Linked DNA regions of Homo sapiens. The protein of the gene in region 2 purifies or fractionates together with the protein of the main gene of each other region. This does not show direct contact. Each region holds a gene or a part of one and is shown on either strand. Other genes may lie near its edges.

What was found.
Region 1: the proteins of STARD8 (region 2) and JPH1 purify together in Homo sapiens (affinity purification with mass spectrometry; 2 studies listed by BioGRID and IntAct, with this or other methods). This does not show direct contact.

What each region holds. Positions count from the first base shown.
Region 1 is NC_000008.11:74,258,915-74,262,647, forward strand, and holds part of JPH1 (junctophilin-1), read right to left. Parts: intron 590-3,733; coding exon 471-589; intron 1-470. UniProt on the Homo sapiens protein: Junctophilins contribute to the formation of junctional membrane complexes (JMCs) which link the plasma membrane with the endoplasmic or sarcoplasmic reticulum in excitable cells.
Region 2 is NC_000023.11:68,650,643-68,654,375, forward strand, and holds part of STARD8 (stAR-related lipid transfer protein 8), read left to right. Parts: intron 1-3,733. UniProt on the Homo sapiens protein: Accelerates GTPase activity of RHOA and CDC42, but not RAC1. Stimulates the hydrolysis of phosphatidylinositol 4,5-bisphosphate by PLCD1.

The DNA.
Region 1 (3,733 bases), on a different chromosome or scaffold from region 2:
TTCCTAATCCAAAAATCTGAAATGCTCCAGAATCCAAAACATTGTGGGCACCGACACGATGCTACAAGTGGAAAATTCCACATGACCGATGGTCACAGTCAAAATGCAGTCAAAACTTTGTTCCATGTGCAAAATTATTAAAAATATACTATAAAATTACCTCCAGGCTATGTGTATAAGGTATCTATGAAACATAAATGAATTTCGTGTTTCAACTTGGGTTCCCAGCTCAAGAGATCTCACTGTGTACATGCAAATACAGAAAAATATCAACAAATCTGAAATCTGAAACACTTCTGGTCCCAAGCACTTCAGATGAAGGATCCTCAACCGCAGGCGCCCTTGCTTGTTTTGTATAATAGTACTGCTGGGATTCAGGAAGCACACATCTTTATGTTGAAAGGAAAAGGAAATAAAAGCAAGCCAAAGCCAGTGCTCCTGCCTCACCCATCAAAGGAGCACTGTTTTACCTGGTTGGTAGAAATCAGGTGACAGCTCCCTGGCCACAGCTCTCGCGATGTCGCACTCCTGGCGAGCGGCCAGCGCGGCCTGGTCGGCGGCATCGGCCTTCGCTCTGGCATGTGCAGTCCTACACGGGGCACAAAAGGACGAGTCAGCATAGGTGACCCCTTGTTACTTACACAGGGACAAGCAAATTGTAATCTGGGAAAAGAAATGTTAATTATGATTATGGCCCGACACCCACAAGAGCAAAAATTTTAGAGTCCTATTGCCGTGAAATTTCAATGAAGATGACATAGATGAAACTAAACTACCCATGAATTGCCTTAGCCCTTCTCTCAAGGGAAATGAAAAGTAAGAGCAAGGTCTGTGTAGCTTGATGCTAAGTGTGGTTTTCAAAACTTACTGGATCAAATCTCCTGTTGACTTTGGTTGGCATTCCTCCCCCCCACCTAAAATTATGGAAAGTAGAATTAGAACATATAAATTAATAGTGTTTATCAAATTCATTTCTACGGTACAATCAATGTAAGAATTTGACTAAGAAAGATCTGCCCACTGGCATGCTGGTGAAGTAGCTCTTTGAAGAAAAAAATTAGTGAAATGGGGATTGGTAGTGTTTATTCATATCCATGTGTAAATGTTCTCACCGTGGCCAATTTCAGGCTACCAGCATAATGCCGTTGGATGTGCAGTGGGGAGATGTGCACTATTGGTGCTCACCAGCAGGAGCAAACCACAAGGCCCGCTCTAAGAACATGCTCAGAAGGGTTCCTGAGGAGCCCATTTAGCTGACTTTTAGGCATGTTTCTTGTATGAACCAAAAAGGAGACAGCGAGGCAGAACTGGCAAGGATGAAATGGATCTTTCAGTCTTCCATCGCCTCCCTGGCCTGTCCTCACTCATGGAAACCTCTCATCTTTCTGGAGGACTAGGGTTATGCGGAAAGTGGCAGGAAAAAGAATAGGGCTTCTTATGGCTGCACCAGGGAATGATGTCTACTGGCCCCAGAGAGGGTTGGAGGGAAGAAAAAAACTCTGGTTTATCTGCTCTGCAAAGGGAAAGGCCTTGTCCCGTTAGTCTTTAGATGTTTATGGGTACCTATTTCTTATGACTTTGTAAATTTTCTATTATATTTTATTAGCACTAGGCAGGGCTATAAATAACTAGCAGTGAAAACTTAATGGAAGTCTGAAAAAGGTGCTTACACTTATGTTGGAGACAGCAGGAGAGAGGAGGAGTTGGGAAAAGGCATGGGCTTTGGATGCTCTTCAGGGAGAACACACGGGCAGCAGCTGGAGGAGGCTGGCAGGCGGAGCTCCTGGGACCAAAACACGGAGGCACCGGGCCTGGCCTGAGACAAGGGGGTCTACTGGTAGGAGGCCCCCTTTTCACATTACTCTCTTCAATAACCTCCTCTTGTCCTGTGCTCTCACGGGACTCCTTTCACTTCTATTTAGGATCTAAGCAAGCCTGAAGGCTTGATGTATTAGAATGTAAGCTTTGTGAAGATTGGAATTTTTAATTTTTGGTCCTCTGTCATAATCCCAAAGTGCAGAACGCTACATTGGCACATACTATTTATTGAGGGACCACTTTATGAATAAAGGAATGAATGATGCTTCCTTAGGAAAAGCTGGGTAGTTCTTAAAACTGAATGGAATGACAAAACCATAGAGACAGTAAAAAGATTCAGAGTTGCTAAGAGTTCGGGGTGTAGTAGGGAAGAATGAATTGGTGGAAAGGAGGGCATATCTGGGGGAGTTTAATTATTCTGCATGATACTGTAGTGGGGGACATTACATATTTGTCAAAATCTATAGACTGTACAACACAAACAGTGAATGAAGCCTGATGTAAACTATGGACTTTAATACTAATATATTAATACCGGTTCATCAATTACACCAAACGCACCTCAAAATGCAAGATGTTAATAATAGGGGATATTGTGTGTGTGCATGAGGAGAGGAGGTGTATGGGAACTTTGCAGTTCCTGTTCAATTTTTCTGATAACTTAAAACTGCTCTAAAAAATAAAGTCATTAAAAATGAGTGGATCAACTTCGAATCATCAAAACTGCTATTTCTAAACCATGGAGGATGCTTTAGATTATTTGTGTATGGGGTATCAAGAAATATGAAATGGAAATAACATCAAGAGGGGAGGGACATATTCTTAAACAACTGGCTGTTGGAATAACCCCTCATGGGTGCCATTGCTGAGGTACGATGGGTAATGCCTTAGTCCTGTGTGTTGTGCCTGATAATCAACAGATGCCCTCCGCTAATGTTCTTTCAGTTTCTCAGAATCTAAACTTTTTTCCCCCAAATGATTTTCCATTTTGTCCGCTATTCTTAGCCAGAGCCTAATTATGTCTAGGTGTCATAATTAATGAAGCCATAAGAGTATAGCTATGCTGCTTTATAATACTATCTATTAGCCCTTTAATGATAAATTTACAAAACTCAAGTACAAGTAACTTATTCGGATTCAATCACGACACACCACCATACAGTCAAATAAAACAGCAGTAGTATATCTACCACTTTTTATAATATGCTAAACTAGAGAATAGACAAATACAGCTTAACCTTTCTGCAAATATATTTTGGAAGCACAGCATCAGTGAAGCCTGCTAGTACTTAACCCTTTACTTTTTTACTTGCTGTTTCCTATAAGACCACACAGCAAAGGAGGACCTTTCTATCCAGCCCAGCTCTGTGGCTCAGTGCTACTGTATAGCTGGCCAGATGAGTCAAGACCACATTCAAACCTGAATCCTGAAGTCTGCTCAAGAGCTTTTGGAACCGATGACAAGAAGGAAGAACAGAAACCCACTCTGAGTTTGCTGTTAACACCAGCCTGTACAGCTAAGGCCACTGGCATGTCTAGATTTTGCCCAGGAATAATCTGGACTTGTCTCTGGCTCATGTTAGTGAATTCATGTGATCACATCCCAGGCTCAGTTCCAGAGTGACACACGACCCCTGTAATCAGTCAATTGCGATTGTTCTTGCGTTGGGGGGTGGGATTCAGGTTAGGCAGTCTGGAGAGATAAGCTGAAACCACTCAAACTGGATGCCCTGATGCTATTGCTGGTCACAGGCAAAAAATGCATACACCAAAGGGGAATACGTGCCCCAAAAGCATTTCATTTATCAAAAGACTGTGACATTTTACAAATCTTCAGACCCTCAAGAATCTCCAAATACCATTATCACAAATACTTTCTCCCATCAAATGCAGTAAAAAGTAACTGAAAAGCGAC
Region 2 (3,733 bases):
AAAAATTTAAAATTAGTCAGGCATGGTGATGCATGCCTGTTTTCTCAGCTACTTGTGGGGCTGAGGCAGGAGGATGGCTGCAGTGAGTCATGATCGCACCACTGCACTCCAACCTGGCCATCAGACTAAGGCTATGTCTCAAACAAAACAAAACAAAACAAAACAAAACAAAACAAAACAAAACAAAACAAAACAAAACTGGTGGGCTAGGACAGCCCCAAGAGAAGGTTGAGGATCTCTATCATGGGTCCCAGACGTTTGCACGCATTCACTTATGAGTGTGTCCACAGAGGACATACACGTGCATTTGTGCATATTCAACCCCACACACATATGCACAGGCACACCATTCAAGTGTGCATACACACATACATAGAGACGAACACACATATACCCTGGCACAAACAGGCAAATGCACATGTACACACAGACAGTGCACATTCCTAGCATGATGTAGACTCACACACATATGCATGCATGCATATACAGAGGTAAGCACACAGGCACATCAGATACATACCCTCCTATGCACAAGCATGAGGGACACACAGAGACACAGCCAGGCACATCTCCAAAAAGCCTGTAGACATACAAAAGCATGCACACGGCGTGAAGGTCCACGTGCATGCACATGCATATGCACAGGTCTGTGGTTGCTCATGTCCTTGGCAGATGTGAATCAACACATGGCTGGATCTCAGGGCTAAGAGGCAGCCTGCCGGATCCACACACTTGGACTGCGTGCTCCCTTTTCCAATGCTGCTGCTTTGAGGCCCCAGTCAGAAAGGCAGGCTCTCTGGGCTCGGGAGCTCAGTCAAGGGCACGGGCTGCTGTGAGCCACCCTCCCTCTCTGAGCCAGGCCCCCTGAGTGCGGGAGACTGAGGGGTTTGAGGGGTGGGGAATGGCCGGGACAGATCCTGTCAGAGCTGAAAGGGCCCTCTCAGATCATCTTATTCAAACTTCTCATGGTCCTGATAGGGAAACCGAGCCCCTTCCCTCCCCCACCATATGGAGCCCTTCATCAGCTGAAGAGGTATGAGGAGGGGTGAAGCACACAAACTTGGGTTTCAATTCCACCCCACACCCACAGGCACACATACTAGCTGTGTGCCTTCGAGCAAGTCTTCTCCGAGCCTCAATTTCCTTGTTTGCAGAATGACACTAATCAGTGCCCGCCTCACAGAAATGCCACGAACATTTGGTGGGTGGGTTAAGTCTTTTTTTTTTTTTTTTGACCGAGTCTCGCTCTGTTGCCCAGGCTGGAGTGCAGTGTCTGCTCATTGCAACCTCCACCTCCCGGGTTCAAGCGATTCTCCTGCCTCAGCCTCCCGAGTAGCTGGAATTACAGGCGCCCGCCACCACGCCCAGCTAATTTTTTTTTTTTTTTGTATTTTTAGTAGAGACAGGGTTTCACCGTGTTGGCCAGGCTGGTCTCGAGCTCCTAACCCTAAGTGATCAGCCCGCCTTGGCTTCCCAAAGTGCGGGAATTACAGGCGTAAGTCACCACGCTCGGCAAGGCTGTGTCTTTAAAGTGCCTGACATGGAGTAGGTGGTCAATACACATGATTTGTTGGAAGCAGCTTCCGAAACTGTGTACTAGAGGCACCACAGCAAAGAATGAGGGTTATTCTATATTTGAAAATTCCAGGGTTAGGGTCTCAGGTCCAGTCTGCTCCTTTGCCACAACTCCTCAGCCCTCTACTTTGACTATGCCTGGGTCTAGGAATAGAAGTGATCCATTTGGGAGATGAAGGCTGACACCCCAGAAGCCAGGGATGGTGGGAAGGTGGCAAAAGGCCAGGCCAGGGCTCAGGATTGCTTTGAGCTGCTCTTGTGTTAGGGGCAGCCAAGGGACAAGACGTTTAAGTGTGAGATGAACCCAGTATAAATAGTCCAATACGTGTTTGCTGTGTCTTCCCCTGGAGGCCAGTCAGGGCCCGGAAGGCATCCATGGCCCCTTGGTACAACGAAGCATGCATGAGTCAGTTTCTCACCCGCTCCCCCGCAACACACAGCCACACACCCCACACTCCACACACATGAAACACACACCACACACACACCACAAACACATCACACCATACACACACCACACACCACACACATACACCACACTCCCCCACACACACACCCCACACACCACACACACACACACCACACACCACACACACACCCCACACACCCCACACCCCACACACACCCCCACACACCACACCACACACACACACACCCACACCCCACACACACACACCACACCACACACACCACACCACACACACACATCACACACACCACACACACACACCACACCACACACACACACCACACACCACACACCACACACACACCACACACCACACACACACCACCACACACACACACCCCACACACCACACACACACATCACACACCACACACACCACACACCACACACACACCACACCACACACCACACACACCACACACACACACCACACACCACACACACACCACACACCACACACACCACACCAAACACACACACCACACACACACAACACAGCACACACACATCACACACACACCACACCACACAACATACACACCACACCACACACACACACCACACATACACCACACACACCACACACCACACCACACACACACCACACACCACACACACACCACACCACACACCACACACACACACCCCACACACCACACACACCCCACACACACCCCCAAACGCACACCACACCACACACACACACCCCACACACACCACACACACCACACCACACACACCACACACCACACATACACCTCACACCACACACACACACCCCACACCCCACACACACACCCCACACCCCTCACACACACCATACACACCACACACACCACACACACCACAGCACACACACACCACAGCACACATACACCACACACACACCACACACACACCACACCACACAAGCACACACACCCCACCACACACACACACACCCCACACACCACACACACACCATACACGCCACATACACCCCCCAACACACCACACCACACACACACCACACCACACATACACCACACACACCACACCACACACACACACCACACGCCACACACACACACACCCCACACATCACACATACCACAAACACACACACCACATACACACACACACACCACATACATACAGAACCATTTCTTTGATGTATTCTTTTGCCCCCTTCCAGCACTTAGCATGGTGTTATGCACATAAGGGGTGCCCGGAACACAAATCCTCCCTCATGTTACTCCGCTTCAGGTGGGCATATCAGGTCCTAGAGGGCACTGGCTTGGGAGGTGGGAAATCTGCCTGGAGCGCCATCTCAACCATGACCTCTGGATGACCTTGAGAGGGTCAATTCTCTCTCCTGTCCCTCAGTTCCCTCCTCTTATAGGTAGATAATCATGCAATATCAGAGATGAAAAGGCCCTTGGAGGTCATCTATTCCTCTTTCTCTGTTCCTCTCTCCAAACTACCAGTGAGGAAACTGAGGCCCAGAGAGGGGAGAGATGTGGCCAAGGTCTCAGAGGGCATCAGGACACAGCGGATTCCAATGTGGTCTGTGTAATACACCATAATCTCCCTACTCGTTCTGTGGCAAAATCCAAACACAACTTGTCTCTGGTAAAATCTAAAAGCAGTACTGGGGGAATGTCTCTACACATGCCACACACACACATGCATACATGCACGTATGTGTTA